Homo sapiens: one gene and its partner. The protein of the gene in region 1 interacts with the protein of each later gene in a pairwise test. Each region holds a gene or a part of one and is shown on either strand. Other genes may lie near its edges.

Evidence for each region. Proteins that work in one complex are often made in the same cells at the same time.
Region 2: the proteins of FAM209A (region 1) and DEFB121 interact in binary tests that used the Homo sapiens proteins (3 or more experiments, as listed by UniProt).

Annotation. Positions count from the first base shown.
Region 1 is NC_000020.11:56,523,471-56,527,896, forward strand, and holds FAM209A (protein FAM209A precursor), read left to right. Parts: upstream 1-1,273; 5' UTR 1,274-1,338; coding exon 1,339-1,587; intron 1,588-2,312; exon of another isoform or gene 2,313-2,333; coding exon 2,334-2,600; 3' UTR 2,601-2,682; downstream 2,683-4,426. UniProt on the Homo sapiens protein: May play a role in sperm acrosome biogenesis.
Region 2 is NC_000020.11:31,403,945-31,408,381, reverse strand, and holds DEFB121 (beta-defensin 121 isoform 1 precursor), read left to right. Parts: upstream 1-2,166; 5' UTR 2,167-2,229; coding exon 2,230-2,287; intron 2,288-3,296; coding exon 3,297-3,469; 3' UTR 3,470-3,537; downstream 3,538-4,437. UniProt on the Homo sapiens protein: Has antibacterial activity.

The DNA of each region.
Region 1 (4,426 bases):
TTTTTTTTTCTTCCTGAGATGGAGTCTCACTCTGTTGCCCAGGCTAGAGTGCAGTGGTGCGATCTCAGCTCACTGCAACCTCTGCCTCCCAGGTCCAAGTGATTCTCCTGCCTCAGCTTCCCAACTAGCTGGGCCTACAGGCCTATGCCACCATGCCGGGCTAATTTTTGTTTAGTAGACATGGGGTTTCACCATGTTGGCCAGGCTATTCTCCAGCTCCTGACCTCAGGTGACCCACCTGCCTTGGCCTCCCAAAGTGCTGGGACTACAGGTGTGAGCCACCACACCCAGCCCAAAGTATACTCTTAACCCAGGGTGGGCACACACTGCTACGATCAATGATGGTGTGAGGTAATAGTGAGTGGTGGGGACTGTGGAGGGAATATGGCCACCGAAAGGACGGTTTCACTTGGCTGCAGCAGAGAGACTGGTTCCATGAGGGTGTGCACTCATTGTTTCTGGACCTCCCATATTTTCAAAGGAAGCCAGAATGTGGAGTTTTAAAGTGAAATGCCCCCCAATATTTAAGTACTGACAATTTTTAAAAACAATGTAGGCCAAACAAAACACATAGGTGGGCCGGGCGCAGTGGCTCATGCCCGTAATCCCAACACTTTAGGAGGCCGAGGCAGGTGGATCACCTAAGGTCGGAAGTTAGAGACCAGCCTGACCAACATGGAGATACCCTGTCTCTACTAAAAATACAAAATTAGCCAAGCGTGATGGTGGATGCCTGTAATCGCAGCTACTCAGGAGGCTGAGGCAGGAGAATGGCTTGAACTGGGAGGCGGAGGTTGCGGTGAGCTAAGATCATTGCACTCCAGTCTGGGCAACAAGAGCAAAATTCCGTCCCCAAAAAAAAACAAAAACAAATTTTTTGTTTGTTTAGTTTGAGCCACATAGGTGGCTCCAAATTTGTAGGTAGCCTGTGGTTTAATATCTTTCTCTCCCGTTTAACTCAGCTCCACGGGGCACATGGCATCTCCCTCTGCTCATCACAATGTCTGGATCAAACAAATGAAAAACAAAAACATGATGGCCTCTCCCAGCAAAGCTCCAGGGTTGGAAAGAGTCCCCTGGCAGGGAATTGGCACCCCGTCGTGCCCATCCTCTCTCTCTGACTGCCTGCTGGAAATGCCCCCATCTCCCTTTGAGTCCTCCTCCCGGGCAACCCCTGTGACCTGTAACCTCTGTCCTGAAATCATCACAATGGCCAGAGTGGCCTCAGCTCAGGGCCTCTGTGACATCACCAAGGGCCTGGCACCAGGTGCCCAGTCTCCCAGTTGCGAGGGCAAGCAAACCCGTCATGAGCAACTCCCTTCCCCATCTCTGCTCACCATGTGGACGCTGAAATCGTCCCTGGTCCTGCTTCTGTGCCTCACCTGCAGCTATGCCTTTATGTTCTCTTCTCTGAGACAGAAAACTAGCGAACCCCAGGGGAAGGTGCAATACGGAGAGCACTTTCGGATTCGGCAGAATCTACCAGAGCACACCCAAGGCTGGCTTGGGAGCAAATGGCTCTGGCTTCTTTTTGTTGTTGTGCCGTTTGTGATACTGCAGTGTCAAAGAGACAGTGAGAAGAATAAGGTAAGGATGGCTCCATTTTTTTTACACCATATTGATTCAATCTCAGGAGTCTCAGGGAAACGGATGTTCTAGTGAGTCTAGACGGCACCGTTGGGTATAATGAACCGACCTCATGGTCCTGGGCAAAGCTGGCAAATTCACTTCCTGATGTATCCTTAGTGAAGACAATTGTCCCCAGATCCACAGATACTGGGACAAAGAGTGGAAAGTGACCTCTGCTTACTGGCTCACAGATTTTCTGGTTAGATGGATTTTTTCAAATGTAGGATAGATTCAAGAACTTATGGTGTGTTTCAGAAAGTCAAAATTATTCACAGGGCCAGATTCACTAGCCCCTGTTTTTTAAATTCTTGCTAGTGTTTGACTTACTACAAAATCCTGAGCTAAATGGAAATGATATCATTATCCCAACAAAATATGAGACTTGTGCTGAAGAGATAAAGATGTAAGGTAGTTTGAGCTGGTCCTCAAAGTGACCACAAACAACTCTTTCAGGTAGAAAAGGAAGGGGAGAGAAAGTGCGTTCTCCCCTAGAAAGACCCAGCACTTCATAATCCTGTGCCCAAACTGATGAGAGCAGGGATCGGCAAACCCTTCCCGTAAAGGGCCAGGGAGGGTGCGAATATCTTCAGCTTTGTGGGCAGTATGGTCTTCTTGCAACTACTCAAGTCTGCTGTTGTAACACGAACTGTGTCAAAACCAACAAAGTTCACAATATTACTGACCTTGAGTATCTTTCCTGACAGGAGCAGAGTCCTCCTGGCCTTCGAGGCGGCCAACTTCACTCTCCATTAAAGAAAAAAAGAAATGCTTCCCCCAACAAAGACTGTGCATTCAATACCTTAATGGAACTCGAGGTGGAGCTTATGAAATTTGTGTCCAAAGTGCGGAATCTTAAACGTGCCATGGCAACAGGTAGTGGCAGTAACCTCAGGCTTCGAAAGTCAGAGATGCCTGCAGATCCATACCATGTCACGATCTGTGAAATATGGGGAGAAGAAAGCTCTAGCTGAATGGATTTGTGTGTCAGGAGAGAAAAAAGTTGAGTGTTGACAAACTGTATGCAAACTAATAAAACTATTCTGAAGAAAAGAACTTCCATGTTTGAGAGCTTGCTTCTTTTCTTTTTTTCACTAGAAGAAAAAGTGAATGGGAGACCAGTAGCCATAGCAGTGATGGTTTTGTTTTTGCCTCTCTCACGTCATCTAGAGCTGTGGGTGGTGAGAAGAACACCGAAAGCTACATAATAGTACGTGATGAGCTCGTGCTTCTGTTCAATGGCCGCGGGTGGACGATGGAGCTAGGGAAATCTGGGATAAGATGCTGACGTCACTTCCATACAAACTCTTGCTCTCTATAGCATCTATTTGTGCAAGATGCAGAACTGCTTTTTATCTTTGATTTATTACAAAAGACAGCATTAATGATAGTTTTAAAATGGTAAAATGATTCAATTAGGAGGGGTGTATTCTAGAGTTATCTGATTCTCTCACCACAAGAGTCCTTTCACTCATTCCCTGTCAAAGGTTCCGTGTATATTGACTTTTCCTTCTACCACACTAGCAGTTACATTTGTCAATAATTGGATTTAAAAAAAAAAAAAGGGGGATGAGGCAGGAGAATCGCTCAAACCCGGGAGGCAGAGGTTGCATTGAGATCGCACCGCTGCACTCCAGCCTGGGTGACAGAGCGAGACTCCATCTCAAAAGAAAAAAACAAAAAGGAGAGGCCCGGCATGGTGGCTCACACCTGTAATCTTAGCCCATTGGGAGGCCGAGGCAGGAGGACTGATTGAGCCTAGGAGTTTGAAACCACCCTGGGCTACATAGTGAGACCCCATCTCTATTATTTTAAATTAACAAGAAAACGGAGAAAAATTCATTCATCCTATGCCATTGGAGTTTTGGATACAAGTGTGCTAACCAGGGGCTCCCAGATTAATTGACATGTTCTTTATCCTACTTATTCAAAATGTGGATATTTTACATGTTACTGTGGCTGATGGCATCTCTGTACATACTTAGGTGCTTGCCTAATGGTGATTTCTATTTTCCTCTCTCCTACAGTGTTTATTGATTGGAATTCTGCTGTAAGAAGAGCTGTTCCTTCGCCGATGATTGATGGATGGGTTTCTGTATGGACTTACAGGTGTGTTTTTTTTTTTGGATTATTTTCTGGCTCCACCTTTCCCACCTTTGGCGTTAGGAGCTGCTTCGGGTTGGCACTTGTGTTCTGTGAGCAAGCCCCTTCCTCTTTTGAGCAATTCCTTACTTTCTGGCAACCCAAGATGCTCCATGCTCATCTGGTTCATTGCCTGCCTTCATCCTGGAATCAGCCACTTCCCCAAGGGGCCAGGTTCCCTTTCTTGGAGAATGGTGACCTGCCCTCCTGCAGCCAGGATCATGACTTATCTTAAAATCCTTCATTTAATTCATCTGCAAAATGTCTCTTGCCACATGAACTGCAGGCCCACAGGTCCCAGGAATGAGTGCATAGGCATCTCTGGGGCCGGTACCCAGTTGACCAGTGCTGTCACCCTCACAAGCATCAAAGTCACCCAGGGCGCAAGGAAGACCAAGACCATGAGGCAGGAGGCCATGGCTTCTGCGGCTGCAGCAGAAGCAGGAGAGGGAGGCAGGGCAGACAGCAGCCCAGATGCCTGGGGCCTCAGGGGAAGGAGGCCCTGCCTCGAAGGCATAGGCGTCCCTCAAGGGTCCCAACCCCGGGCCCTGAAGGGTGGGCAGCATCTTCCCGGGAAGAATATGGTGGCTGGGCATGGTGGCTTATGTCTGTAATCCCAGCACTTTGGGAGGCCAAGGTGGACAGATCACCTGAGGTC
Region 2 (4,437 bases), about 25 Mb from region 1:
CTCCTGGGCTCAAATGATTTTCCTGCCTCAGCCTCCCTAGTAGGTAGGACTACAGCTTTGCCCCACCATGCCCGGCTATTTAAAACTTTTTTTGTGTGTGTGTAGAGATGGAGTCTCGTTATGTTGCTGAGGCTGGTTTCAAACTCTTGGCTTCAAGCAATCCTCCTGCCTTAGCCTCCCGAATTGTGGGGATTACAGGCAGGAGCCTCTGCTCCTGGCTTGTTGTTTTCTTCCATGTTAGAAAGAAGATATTCCTCTTATTAGTATGTCTTTATTTCTGTCCATTTTGAAATGATAGACCTAGGCCAGGTGCAGTGGCTCACGCCTGTAATCCCAGCACTTTGGGAGGCTGAGGCGGGTGGATCACCTGAGGTCAGGAGTTTGAGACAAGCCATGGCCAACATGGTGAAACCTCGTCTCTACCAAAAATACAAAAATTAGCTGGGTGTGGTGGCGCGTGCCTGTAGTCCTAGCTACTCGGGGGGCTAAGGCAGGAGAACTGCTTGAACCCGGGGGGCAGAGGTTGCAATGAGCTGAGATGGTGCCACGGCACTCCAGCCTGGGCAACAGAGCAAGACTCTGTCTTAAAGAAAAAAGAAAAAGAAAAGAAAGATAGACCTTACCATTATTGTCCTAAAAAGCACTTGGCTCTTTCCTGATCTATCTGCTGGCCTTGTGTATAAGTTAGCCATTACTATGTAATGTTCCACTCCAAAACTCAGTGGCTTAAAACATCAATCCTTTATATTTGGCTAGATTGCCCTGCTTGAGGCTGGAATGCCTGGGGCAGCTCTGTTTCTCACTGTAGATCTGTGAGTCGCCTGGAGTAGCTGTGCCCCACGTATCTCTCATCCTCCTTGGACCACTGGGGCATGTTCTTCTCATAGTGATGGCAGAGACACAGAAGGGCAAATGAAAATATTCATCATCTCTTAAAACCTAGGCTTACAACCGGCACACCGTCACTTCTGCCCACATATCACTAGCCAAAGCAAATCACATGCCAAGGCCAAAGTGAAGGGAAAATGAAATAGAGTTCTCCTAGGATGAGACCTTGGCAAATGTGTGAATTCAAGTAGGGATGAAGAAGTAGGGCCAAGATTACAATCTACCATTTCTTTCTTTCTTTTTTGAGACAGAGTCTCGCTCTGTTGCCCAGGCTGGAGTGCAGTGGCACAATCTCGGCTCACTGCAACCTCCGCCTCCCGGATTCAAGCTAGTCTCCTGCTTCAGCCTCCTGAATAGCTGGGACTACAGTGGCCAGCCACCACGCCCGGCTAATTTTTTGTATTTTTTTTTGTAGAGACGGGGTTTCACTGAGTTAGCCAGGATGGTCTCGATCTCCTGAACTTGTGATCCGCCTGCCTCGGCCTCCCAAGTTGCTGGGGCAATCTACCATTTCTTATAAGAAAGACCAAGCTGGGCATGATGGCTCATGCCTTTAATCCTAGCACTTTGGGAGGCCAAAGCAGGAGAATTGCTTGAGACCAGGAATTCGAGGTTCCAGTGAGCTATGATTGTGCCACTGCACTCCAGCCTGGGTGACAGAACAAGACTGTCTCAAAAAAATAAGTAATAATAAAAAAAAGACCACAACAATAATAAATGGCTTTTCTTTTGCTACCTATGAGGGTGCTACTTGTTCCTATTAAATATGTACTGTTAAAAGTAAGGGCTATGGCTTTCCTGCTCATTCCACTCCATGAATACTGACATTCTGGTTTCCAGTGGTGATGGCCATGGAGCTATTAAGGTATTTTCCCCTGCTCTGCCCTTCATTTGGTATTATAATGAATCATCAACATATGGGACATCCTAAGATGTCCTTGTTGCTGGGAAGAACCCAAGGCGCAGAGAAGTATCACTCCTTTTCTGTCTTATCTCTTTTTCTCTCTCTTTTTTTCTCATTAATGAAAAACAAATTAGAGATGAAAATATTTTTCCCCTTCTTGGTTCTCCAGCTGTATTATAAAATTCTTCAGAGGCAAGGCCGTATCTTCTCTTTGTTAACGTCCCTTCCCCCTCTCCCAGCCTCCTCAGGCAGTGTGGTTGATACCTTCCTTGCCTGCCTGTCTGATCTCAAATGACTGTTCCCGTTCTGGTTCACTGATCTTGGCTCTGCCATGCTCCTCAAGGCAATAAATACCAGTCTGGACTGCCCAGAATGGAGTCCTCTGTCTGTTTTACCAGTTGAGAAGCCTCCTATCCCTCCCTGATCATTCATCATTCATGAAGCTCCTTCTTCTGCTTTTGACTGTTACTCTGCTCCTGGCCCAGGTCACCCCAGGTAAACAGGATCTCCAGAAGGGGATGGGAGTCAGGAAACCTGATGCATGTTCAGAGAACTCTGGGGACTCTGACAGGTTGGGCTGGGAGAATGGCCTGGTAGAGCTCATTGAGGCCTTTAGGTAGTCTCTCTAGTTATGGGGAAGTTTGAGTTCTCTGGTACCAAATGGTCTTCCCAGTGCCCAGTACTTGACCATTCCAACCTTATCTCTGGTTAGCTCTGGAAAAGCTGAACGTGATGACCTGAGGATGGGATAGGGTGTAAAGAGAGAGACTTGGGTATGGAGTATAGAGAAAATGGGGACTTTTTCAAAAACATTCATTGAAAGGATTTGAATTTTGATGCATTGTTGCCTCTAGGAAAATGGTTCTCAAATTTCTGATTGTTTGAGGATTCTGATTCCACTTTTTAATGCAACCTCAAATCATCTGGGTTACCTTAGGTTGTAGGTTCCCTGGAATAGCTGTTCCTAATTCCCTTGACTGGTTGGGGCCAGAGAAAAGTCCCAGGATGTTGTGAAGAAGGCAGTATGATATTCTTGGGAGTTTTAAAGGTGCCCTAGAAGACTTACAGATGTTAAATGAGTTTATTTAATATTCCTGTCACCTTTCATTGATATGGTCAGAGGGGGTACCAAAGAACAATGAGAAAAGGTGGCTAATTGCTACTGGGCACCTGGGTACATTATAATATGGGGGAGATAAAACCCTTGGGAGAGGGGTCCTCTTCCCCCTCCCAAGGAGCTGGCCAAGGAGGGGAAGCTATCCAGTAGGTCCTATGCCACTGAGTTGGGGGGACTCTGGGGGTTCTAACAGGGGGCACAAGTGAAGGAAGAAAGCGTAGTGGTCTATAATCTCCCTTAAACTTAGGGGATCCTGTGTAAGAGCTTCTTCCCCACAGACCTCCTCATTTCCCTCCTACTCCTCTACTGGGCTTTAGCCTCTTCCTTTCACACCTTTCTGCTTTCTTTCAAAACTGACTCTATTCTCTTCTTCCCTTTTGTTTTCAGTCATGAAATGTTGGGGCAAGTCAGGCAGGTGCAGAACAACATGTAAAGAAAGTGAAGTATACTATATATTATGCAAAACTGAGGCTAAGTGCTGTGTGGATCCCAAGTATGTACCTGTAAAACCAAAATTAACAGACACAAATACAAGCCTGGAATCAACTTCTGCAGTCTGACACCTCTCTTCCAACCTTGAGTCTCAACATCATGGGATCCTGCAGTTCTATTAAATCATTCTTGGCAACACCCTGTTTCTGTCTGATAGTTCCACCTAGTTACATTTAGAAACAAGTAAATAAAGAAGAAAGGTTGTGTGCGTGTGTGTGTGTGTGTGTGTGTGTGTGTCCGGTGTGCATGTTAGGAAGAACAGGATGGACCAGTAGGTGGTAACAATCTAAACCTTGCAAATAGCTCCTAGCCTGCTGACCCATAGCTGGTCCAAGAGGGCATGAATTAAAGAATATTCATTATATCTACTTGATTCCTGTTTTCTTCTAGACCAGCACTGCCAATAGAACATTCTGCCATGATGGAAATATTTCCTGTCTATGTTGTTCAATATGGTAGCTACTAGCCACATGTGGCTACTGAGCACTTGAAATGTGCCCAGTGTGAATGCGGACCCGAAGTTTTAATTTGATTCAATCGAGCTTTAAATTTATATAGCTAAATGTGGCTAGTGGTGATTGTATTGTATAGCAATGGCTTTAGAGTCTAGGCTGAGGCATGCTGTGGGTCTCAATCTATGAGTATTTTAGGGGAGTCCAGGAGGCAAGTATGATGAACACAAGAACCCATTCTTGGCCCATGGCCTCTTTCTACTCCCACACCAAAGGTTATAACTTTCCCTTGATCACACCTGCAGTTCTGCCCCTCAGGGGCTCTAGGGCAATGCCTCTTGTGAGTCTTCCTCATGGTGGACAGTGCTGGCATCAGGCCATCTGTGGATCCTTGCTCCATCTCTTTCCATTCCCTCTAGTTGTGGCCATGGGACATTAAACTGCTGGCTAATCATTTTGCAGGACAGATCCTGAACTGAGACGACAGGAATTTTACCACATTCAGCCCCATGATCCCAAGTATCCCCAACTCTTGCTACTTATCTGACTAATGTAAAAGAACTTGATTCTTTATCCTGAGTTGA